Linked DNA regions of Homo sapiens: region 1 is linked to region 2. Evidence: fine-mapped expression QTL. A gene starts in region 2. The other region holds a variant in brackets. All regions are shown on one strand. Distances are from middle to middle.

Region 1 (5,369 bases), 220 kb before region 2:
CCGTTCTGCTCCCGGCAGGAACCAAGCCGGAGACCTGGACATGCCCAGCTCCTCCTGATGCCAAGACCTGAGAGGAGTTTCTCCCAAGGATGGATTTCAAGGTAGATGTTTTGTGTGGGGCCCAAGTAACAACAGTGCTCCGTGGAGTCAGCAGCCACTCTGAACTCCCTGTGGAGCCCAGTCCCCAGCTGCCGGGCACCCTCGGGGGTATGCTCCACAGGGGAGGGTTCAGTGGCCCCTGACCACCTACACCCCCTGCGGTGGGCCACCGCTGCCATCTCCAGTTGGCCGCTGCAGGTGGCTGCAATCCTGTCCCCGCTAGGCCCCTGTTCCCCAGGAGGCTTCTCTGTCCCTTTATGTAAGATGCCAGCTTCCCAGCTGCCCATGCAGACGTGGCACATGACCTGCCTGTAAAAGTCAGCAGCAGGCGCTGGCAGCCTCTGGTTTCCCTCTTCTTATTTATTTGTATTTATTTATTTATTTATTTATTTATTTATTTATTTATTGAGACTGAGTTTCGCTCTTGTTGCCCAGGCTGGAGTGCAGTGGCGTGATCTCGGCTCACTGCAACCTCCGCCTCCCGGGTTCAAGCAATTCTCCTTCTTCAGCCTCCTGAGTAACTGGGATTACAGGCGCCCGCCACCACGCCCAGCAGATTTTTGTAGTTTTAGTAGAGATGGGGTTTTGCCATGTTGGCCAGGGTGGTCTTGAGCTCCTGACCTCAAGTGATCCACCTGCCTTGGCCTCCCAAAGTGCTGGGATTACAGTTGTGAGCCACCGCGCTCTGCCATTTAGTTTTAGAGACAGCGTCTTGCTGTGTCGCCCAGGCTGGAGTGCAGTGGTGCGATCATAGCTCACTGCAGGCTGGACCTCCTGAGCTCAAGTGATCCTCCCACTTCAGCCCCTTTATTTTTATTTTTTATAGACGTGGGGTCTCACTATGTTGACCAGGCTGATCTCAAACTCCTGGCCTCAAATGATCCTCCTGCCTGGGTCTCCCAAAGTGTTGGGATTACAGGCATGAGCTGCCGTGCCCAGCCCAGTTTCTCCATTCTGATGCCATCGTACTTGCTCTTACTTTCCTGATACCCCACCCATCCCTATTCCCTCCCCATACAGCTGCCTTGCAGCTCTTGGTGGCTTCAGACCTTGTAGCTCCAGTGCACTCTTTGGGACACATTTTTCTGTCTTGAACACTTCACATTCCTTTGGATACAATGTGGGCATTTGCCCTCTGGCCTCAGACATTGAGACCTCTTACCTGGCCCAGCCTTCCCCGGCTTACACACTAAGCCCGTTCTCTGCCAGGCATGTAATCTCAGCTGAGGTGGGCAGATGGCTTGAGCCAAGGAGTTTGAGACCAGCTGGGCAATATAGCCAGACTCCATCTCTACACACACAAAAAGTGTATATATATATATATATTTGTATGTATACATATATACATCCTCTATTTGACAGGGGAAGAAGAGGGTGTCTGGCATTTATTAGGGACCTAAATAAGTTCAGAATATTATGTTTAATCTCCTTGACTACCTATTTAGTTACGTATCTCTCCCACTTTGCTGATGAGAAAAATGAGGCTCAGAGAGGTGACATTCAACATCACATAGCCTGAGGGTGGTAAAGCCAGGATTTTAACCGAGGTCTGTGGGACTCTAAAGTCCTGTCAAAATTTTTGGTCGAGTGTTTGCTCATATGTTTTGCCTGTTTTAAAAACTGAATTGTTTGTCTTCTGATTGACTTGTAAGAGACCTTGATCATTAGATATTCCAGATAATGAGTCCTTTGTCAGATTCTGTTTTGTGAATATTTTCTTGATCCATGACTTGTCTTTTTTTTTTTTTCTGTCATCATCTTGAAGAACAAAAGTTTTAAATCTGGTTAAAATTTAATTTGCTGACTTTTCTTTGAGACAGAATCTTGCTCTGTCTCCTAGGCTGGGGTGCAGTGGTGCAATCTCACCTCAGTGCAACCTCCGCCTCCTGGGTTCAAGCAATTCTCCTGCCTCAGCTTCCCAAGTAGCTGGCGTTAGAGGCGCACACCACCATGCCTGGCTAATTTTTGTATTTTTAGTAGAGATGGGGGAGATGGGGTTTCACCATGTTGGCCAGGCTGATCATTTTTTTTTTTTTTTTTTTTTTTTTTTGAGACAGAGTCCCACTATGTGGTCTAGGCTGGAGTGCAGTGGCGCAATCTCGGCTCACTGCAACCTCTGCCATCTGGGTTCAAGGAATTCTTGTGCCTCAGCCTCCTGAGTAGCTGGGACTACAGGCTGCCACACCCAGCTAATTTTTGTATTTTTAGTAGACCACCATGTTGGCCAGGCTGGTCTCGAACTCCTGACCTCAAGTGATTGGCCCGCTTCAGTCTCCCAAAGTGCTGGGATTACAGGCGTGAGTCGCCGCACCTGGCTTAATTTGTTGATTAAAAAATCATTTGTGCTTTTTGTGTCCTATTTAAGAAATCTTTGAGCCAGGTATAGTGGCTCATGCCTGTAATTCCAGCATTTTGGGAGGGTGAGGCAGGAGGCTCAGTTGAGTCCAGGAGTTGGAGACCAGCCTAGGCAACATAGCAAGACCCTGTCTCTACGAAAATTTAAAAAATTAGCCAGGCATGGTGGCTCGAGCCTGTAGTTCCAGCTACTCCAGAGGCTGAGGCAGGAGGATCCCTTGACCCTAGGAGTTTGAGGCTGCAGTGAGCTATGATTGTGCCACTGCACTCCATTCTGGGTGACAGACCAAGACTTTGTCTCTAAATAAATAAAATAAAATAAAACAAAACAAAATAAAATGCATTTTAAAAATTAAAAAAAGAGCCAAGCACGGTGGCTCACGCCTGTAATCCCAACACTTTGGGAGGCCTAGATGGGCAGATCACCTGAGGTCAGGAGTTCGAGACCAGCCTGAACAACATGGTGAAACCCTGTCTTTACTAAAAATACAAAACTTAGCTGGGTATGGTGGCTTATGCCTGTAATCCCAGCTACTGGGGAGGCTGAGACAGGAGAATCACTTGAACCCGGGAGGCAGAGGTTGCAG[T/C]GAGTCGAGATTGGGTCACTGCACTCCAGCCTGGGCAACAGAGCGAGACTGTTTCAAAAAAAAAAAAAAATTAAAAAGAGCACTTCTGGGAGTGAAAAAGAAAAACCTTGCTCTTGATGCCTAGAGAGCTGTGCTAGTTCCAAAGATAAAGCTTTTACTTTAGGCACCGACCTCAAATTAATCTTGTAGGAAAGTGTTTTGTCTTGTTTTGTTTTGTTTGTTTTTTGTTTTTTGAGACAGAGTTTTGCTCTTGTTGCCCAGGCTGGTGTGCAATGGGCGATCTTGGCTTACTGCAACCTCCGCCTCCCAGATTCAAGGGATTCTCCCGCCTCAGCCTCCTGAGTAGCTGGGATTACAGGTGCCGGACACCATGCCTGGCTAATTTTTGTATTTTTAGTAGAGATGGGGTTTCATCATGTTGGTCAGGCTGGTCTGAAACTCCTGACCTCGTGATCTGCCCGCCTTGGCCTCCCAAAGTGCTGGGATTACAGGTGTGAGCCACCGCACCCAGCCTTATTAATTATATTTAAGGCTATTCAAGTTTTCTTTTCTTTTCTCTTTTTTTTTTTTTTTTTTGAGACAGAATTTCACTCTGTTGCCCAGGCTGGAGTGCACCGGTGTGAACTTGGCTCACTGCAGCCTCCACACCCAGTAGCTGGGACTACAGGCGCACATCACCACACCCAGCTAATTTTTATAATTTTACTAGAGACGGGGTCTTGTCCTGTTTTCCAGGTTGGTCTTGCACTACTGCTGGCCTCATGTGATCCACCTGCCTCGGCCTCCTGGGATTAGCACTTTGGGAGGCCGAGGTGGATGGTTCACCTGAGGTCAGGAGTTCAAGACCAGCCTGTCCAACATGGTGAAACCCTGTCTCTACTAAAAATACAAAAAATTAGCCAGGCGCGGCGGTGGGCGCCTGCAATCCCCACTACTTGGGAGGCTGAGGCAAGAAAATCGCTTGAACCTGGGAGGCAGAGGCTGCAGTGAGCCGAGATTGCACAATTGTACTTCAGCCTGGGTAACAAGAGCGAAACTCCATCTCAAACAAAACAAAACAAAAAGAGAGAGAGAAAAAAAAAAAAACCACAAAGTGCCGGGATTACAGGTGTGAGCCCCTGTGCCCGGCCTATTCAAGTTTTCTATTTCTTCTTTTTTTTTTTTTTTTTTTTGAGACGGAGTCTCGCTCTGTCTCCCAGGCTGAAGTGCAGTGGCGCGCCAGCAGCACAAGGAAAGCAGCACCTTCCAGCTCTCCTCCGCCTTCTCCGCGAAGCCCCTGACCCTGCTCCCAGAACAGGGAGCGGAGAGGAGAAAGTCCTCGAGCCCCAGCTGGCACTCACCTGATGCCTTGGTGGCATCGTCAAATTCCACCTGGAAGAGGTAGCCAGTGTTCCAGATGTACAGGCAGGATGCCACGTCATAGGAGACCCTGAGTGGCTTCAGCCAGGGGTCATAGACGCTGTCCCTCCACTGGATGTTGATAGGAGACTGCCGGGTGCCCCCTGGCACGGAGACCGGGCCCGTCCAGAGTGGGTGCACTGCAGGGAGAGAGAAGGAGACCCCGAGTGAGGCATGAGCTTCATCCTGTGTCTTGGACGGATAGGGCAGAAACCTGGCCGCACGAGACCCCACAGGTACTGGCTCATGGGAAACAGACCCACGGGAAACGGGTGCGTGGGGGCCCCTGCGCAGCTGGACGCGCGTCCACAGGGTACTCGCCTGCTCCTCTCCTTTCCGCACCACTCGGGGACTTTCTTTCCCACCCAGAAGCAACTCCCTCTCGGCCCGTGCCGCCTGTGTTGATGGGTTTTTGACTTTTGTGTTGCCCTTGTCACAGAGTGGTCACAGGAAGTCTGGAGAGACCTTGGGGAGGGCAGGTGGGCGGAGGAGGGCCCTGTGGGGAAGGCAGGCTGAGTGCAGTGGGGCTCTTGTCTCTCGGGAAGGGCTTGAAACCTCCCTTCCCACTCACAGGTATCCCACCTAGTGGGTCCTGTGGAAACTGGAGCTGCTTTGGAAGTCTCACTCTCCAAGCCCTCTGGCAAGGAGGAAATGAGACCCCAGTGTGGAGAAAATTAAGCAGAGTGGCAGCCCCTTTACCCACTTCCTCGAGGCTCATTTCAAACTGCTTTGATTGTCATTTTTAAAGTTAAGAGCCATTAATCAAAAACAGTTCAGAGGTCAGAAACAGTGGCTCACGCCTGTAATCCCAGCACTTTCGGAAGCAAGGTGGGCAGATCGCCTGAGGTCAGGAGTTTGAGACCAGCCTGACCAACATGGCAAAACCCCATCTTTACTGAAAATGTAAAAATCAGCTGGGTGTGGTGGCGG
Region 2 (5,369 bases):
GCCGGGCACAGTGGCTCACGCCTGTACTCCTAGCACTTTGGGAGGCCGAGGCAGGTGGATCATGAGGTCAGGAGATGGAGACCATCCTGGCTAACACGGTGAAACCCCGTCTCTACTAAAAATACAAAAAATTAGCCAGGCATGGTGGCGGGTGTCTGCAGTCCCAGCTACTCAGGAGGCTGAGGCAGGAGAATGGCGTGAACCTGGGAGGCGGAGCTTGCAGTGAGCTGAGATCGCGCCACTGCACTCCAGCCTGGGTGACAGAGCGTAAGCTTCCACATCGTTTTCCCTCTGTCCCTTTTTTTGGGGGGGTGGGGGTGGGGGCAGGGTCTCTCACTCTGTCACCCAGGCTGGAGTGCAGTGGCACCATCAGAGCTCACTGCAACCTCAACATCCTGGGCTCAACTGATCCTCCTGCCTCAGCCTCCCAAGTAGCTGGGATTACGGACGCATGCCACCACACCCAGCTCATTTTTGTATTTTTGGTAGAGATGGGATCTCACTATGTTGCCCAGGCTGGTCTCCAGCTGCTGGGGTCAAGCAATCAGCCTGCCTCAGCCTCCCAAAGTGCTGGAATCACAGAGGTGAGCCACCACGACCAGCCAGCATCATTTTCCAGTTAAATGTTAATAGTATCTACTTCATATGGCTGCTGTGAGGATTACAGGAGGTAGTGTACATAAAAGTGCCTGGCAAGCCAGGTGCCGTAATCTCAGCACTCTGGGAGGCCAATGTGGGTGGATCACCTGAGGTCAAGAGTTTGAGACCAGCCTGGCCAACATGGTGAAACCTCGTCTCTACTAAAAATACAAAAATTAGCCGGGCGTGGTGGCTGGCGCCTGTAATCCTAGCTACTTGGGAGGCTGAGGTGGGAGAATGACTTGAACCCAGGAGGTAGGGGTTGCAGTGAGCTTGCACTCCTGCCTGGGTGATAGAGCAAGACTCCGTCTCAAAAAAACAAACAAACAAACAAACAAAAAAAAACCAAAAGTGCCTGGCACAGAAGAGATGGTAAGTCTACATTAGTTGAATATGCGTCTATGAACCAGAACAAATCCCAGTCCAGTCCTCCAAGGAAATGCCAACCTCAGTCACTAGAGGGGAATCTCAGTCACACTCTAACTGAGCTTCCAGCAGCAGGAGGTGGCAGCTTGCAGCTCTGATACACCAGCCTTTCCTATGCTGGGAAACTCACTCCCACTCAGCAAACCTGGCTCCATGCTGAACTCCATAGTGTTTTCTCTGAGTCACTATATTCTCCCGCAGTTGCAAAATGATCTGGCAAAAGTCCCTCTAGGGTTTTTACTGCTTACTGAGTAACATCCAAACTCCTTGCCAGAATCCAGAGCCTTCCTAATCTGGCCCCAACCTACCTCTCCAGGCTGAAACCTCATCATTTTTTTACTGCAGCCATGCTGGACAAGTTATGCTTCTGCCTTTATGCCTCAGCTCACCCCGATCCTTCTCCTTCATGCCTTTCTTCAGTCCCTACCTTCTGCAACCCTACTTTTTCTCTTCTTCTTTTTGTTTTTTGTTTTTGAGACGGAGTGTTGCTCTGTCGCCCAGGCTGGAGTGAAGTGGTGCAATCTCAGCTCACTGCAACCTCCTCCTCTCGGGTTCAAGCGATTCTCCTGCCTCAGTCTCCCAAGTAGCTTGGATTACAGGCACGTGCCACCATGCCCAGCTAATTTTTGTATTTTTAGTAGAGACGGGGTTTCACCATGTTGGTCAGGCTGGTCTCAAACTCAGGTGATCTGCCCACCTCGGCCTCCCAAAGTGCTGGGATTACAGGCGTGAGCCACCGTGCCCAGCCCCCCAATTTTTTTTTTTAATTAGCAGGGCGTGGTGGCGCGCACTCGTAGTCCCAGCTCTTTGGGAGGCTGAGGTGGGAGGATCACTTGACCCCAGGGAGGTTGAGGCTGCAGTGAGCAATTATTGCACCACTACACTCCAGCCTGGACGACAGAGAGAGACCCTGTCTCTATAATAAAATAAAAACAGTCTAGGACTCTGAGAGGCATGGAATTAGAAAGAGTCTCTGTGTCAGAAGACACCATTTTGAGTCTCAGCTGTCACTACTAGTGACCTTACCCAAGTTAGTAAACCTAACTCTCAGATTCTCCATCTGTAAAATTTGATCCATTTATTAGAACATTATTTTTAACCTAGGGTGATCCCGGGCCCAGGTTCTGGTGGGCTGCCGCATACATTGGCTGGGTGGCTCTGGTAGGTCACGCCCTGGCCGCTTCGCCATCGAGGGGAGGGTGAGGACAGTCTCCGAGGCGGCGCTGCCGAACCTCCCGGTGACCTGGAGGCCGCGGAGCCCGCAGGGACCCATGGCCCCCGAACCTGGGGCAAGAAGGGCGGGCGCGCGCGGGGCGGGTCACGTGACAGCTCCAGGCCCACGCGGGGCCGGGGCAAGGGCGGGGCCTGGCGCGCGCGGCCCTGCGGGTGACAGGCAGGCGGGAAGGGGCGGGGCCTCGGGCGGGGCCGCCGTGGGGAGGAGGGCGGTGGGAGGGGAGGAGTGGAGATGGCGGCGGCGGCGGCTCAGGGGGGCGGGGGCGGGGAGCCCCGTAGAACCGAGGGGGTCGGCCCGGGGGTCCCGGGGGAGGTGGAGATGGTGAAGGGGCAGCCGTTCGACGTGGGCCCGCGCTACACGCAGTTGCAGTACATCGGCGAGGGCGCGTACGGCATGGTCAGGTGAGGGGGCGTTCCGGGGGAGGGGGTGCCCTCAGGGGAGGGGGCTTCGCGGGAGAGGAGGAGGAGGCGCCGAGCGCTTTCCGGGACGTGGAGACGCGGAGCGTCCCGAGGAGGCAGGAGACTCGGGATGATCGGGAGCGTCCCAGGGAGGGGGCCCCTGAGTGCTTTCTGGGGGAGGGGGCGCTGCCTACGTCCTCAGGGGAGCAGGCTTGGAGGCTTTGAGTCCACCCTTCTGTAATGATGGGAGGGGCATCCGAGTGCATGTGGGGGCCCGCGGGGACCCTAGTGACACGGGGCGAGGCCCAGAGGATGAGTACTCTCGGGGAGGCGACATCCTTAGTGAAGAGGCAGTGGAGGGCCCGTTTTGGGGGAAAGGGTGTCTTGGATTCCCCCTGTGAGGCAGTGCCAGGGAGCCTGGGGGAGAAGAGCCGAGATCAGGGTGGGGCAGGGCTTTGGCCCCACCACCCCAGGGGCCCAGAGAGAGATGAGGCGGCCAGGAGTGCCACCTGCATGTTTTGGGAGGGGTCTGTGAGTGCCCCCGGCCCCACCGTGTGCTCTGGGCCTCTATCCCTCTGGGACAGCCCCGCTGCCCGGATCCCTCACCCTGGGACCCTCCCCTGCCCTGTCCATTCTCTCCTGCCCCTCCCCTGGCTGCCACCTTCCCAGTATTTGCCCCATGGTGTGTCCCCAGCATCTGCACCCCCGGACCTGTCTTGGGTTAAGGAGCCTTTCCTGGGAATGGGGGCGAAGGGTTCAGGGCCAGTAGAATGGAAGGGGATTGAGGAGAGGGGAAGTCAGTGAGCGGTCAGTCTCTTCCTCTGTTTGTAAAGTCACCGAAGGGCCGCCTGGCTGGTCCCCAGCTTTCTCTCTGGAGATCCCAGGCCTCCACAGCAGGAAGGAACCAGCATTGTTTATGATTTGACCAGAGCCAGCTCCTGCTCTCTCCCCTCCCTGCCAAGGCCTGGGTGGGGCCACCAGGCCCGGACTCCCCCTTTGTAAGGCCACAGCAGCAGCCTCTCTCCGGTCCCCTCAGCTCGGCCTATGACCACGTGCGCAAGACTCGCGTGGCCATCAAGAAGATCAGCCCCTTCGAACATCAGACCTACTGCCAGCGCACGCTCCGGGAGATCCAGATCCTGCTGCGCTTCCGCCATGAGAATGTCATCGGCATCCGAGACATTCTGCGGGCGTCCACCCTGGAAGCCATGAGAGATGTGTATCCTTCACCTTGGCCAGTCGGCTGGTCAGGCACGGCCTCGCAGCTGGGCTGGGGACCCGTTGCTTGGTTTCTGTTTCCATCTTACCCACCACCCTCCAAAACAAACCCAGTAAAATAAACTTTCCTGCAGAGGGGAAGCCACAGTGTAACAGGACTTGGAGACCTCTGATGAACCCAGGCCTGCAGCGGCCCAGGCAGTATGGCCTCGAGCAAGTGGGTTCTCTGCTCTGTGCCCCAGGGGGAAGGGCTAGGCAGGATGGTCTCTATGGGAGTGGTGTCTTCTGACGTCGGCAGTTCTGAGACATGACCTGGCCTCTGCCCACAGTCACTTCTTGCTAAGGAATGGATGATTCTTTCCTCTCTTTCCTCCTTGCCCAGACCGGAAGGGAGACAGGGAGAAAGAAAACTGTCAGCTGGGCGTGGTGGCTCACGCCTGTAATCCCAGCACTTTGGGAGGCTGAGGTGGGAGATTACCTGAGGTCAGTAGTTGGAGACCAGCCTGGCCAACATGGTTAAACCCCATCTCTACTAAAAATACAAAAAAATTAGCGGGGCATGGTGGTGCAAGCCTGTAATCCCAGCTACTTGGGAGGCAGAGGTAGGAGAATCGCTTGAACCCAGGAGCTGGAGGTTGCAGTGAGCCAAGATCGTGCCACTGCACTCCAGCCTGGGTGACAGAGCGAGACTCTGTCTCAAAACTAAACAAAAACAAAAAACTGCCTTTCTTGAGGGCCTGCTGTGTGTCAGGTACTATACATGCCCAATGCTTTTTTTTTTCTATTACACCTCCCAACTACCCTATGAGATGGGCTTTTCAGCTTCATTTCAAAGATGAGGGGTGGAGTGCAATGGCTCACATCTGTAGTCCCAACACTTTGGGAGGCTAAGACCAGAGGATCACTGGAGGCCAGGAGTTCAAGACCAGCCTGGGCAGCATAGTGAGACCCCACCTCTACAAAAAATTTAAAAATTATCCAGGTTTGGTGGTACACGACTATAGTCCCAGCTACTTGGGAGGCTGAGGCAGGAGGATGGCTTGAGCTTAGGAGTTCGAGGCTGCAGTGAGCTATGATTGTGCTACTGCACTCTAGCCTGGGGGACAGAGCGTGACCCTGTCAAAAAAAAAAAAAAAAAAAAAGATGAGGAAGCTAAGGCTCAGAAAACCTAAAATCAAGTGTTTCTGTTGCTGTCTCCTCCTCTCCTCCCCCAGATGGGAACTTGTCCTTCTTCTTAGGACTTCTCACTCAGAGCCACACCCTAATCACCTGTGGACTTGCACCTTGCCCAGGGAGGGACAGCCTAGCCTTGGCTGTCCTCCCCCAATACTGCTTTCCTAGTTTGCTGTCCACTTCCTGTCTGGCTCTCCTTAGCAACTTATGACACCTGTCACTTCTTCCCTGCCCCACCCACCCACTCTCAGTCCCAGCCCTCCACCCAAGAGTGGGGATTT

The links. PIP is the estimated chance that this variant, and not a neighbour inherited with it, causes the effect. A credible set is the group of variants that fine-mapping cannot tell apart.
Region 1: its variant is the best candidate, but not a certain one, in a credible set for the expression of MAPK3 in whole blood (INTERVAL, PIP 0.80).

The regions. Positions count from the first base shown.
Region 1 is chr16:30,342,349-30,347,717 of GRCh38, reverse strand. It overlaps the pseudogene LOC100421031. Among named protein-coding and RNA genes, the nearest start is that of CD2BP2, 10 kb to the left of the region's middle. RefSeq lists an enhancer at 4,555-5,056. The variant T/C (reference allele first, on the strand shown) is at 3,042.
Region 2 is chr16:30,120,371-30,125,739 of GRCh38, reverse strand. It overlaps MAPK3 (mitogen-activated protein kinase 3), which reads left to right and starts at 2,520. Exons shown (of 9, transcript NM_002746.3): 1 at 2,520-2,700; 2 at 3,734-3,916. The coding sequence starts at 2,531. RefSeq lists a silencer at 2,159-2,528.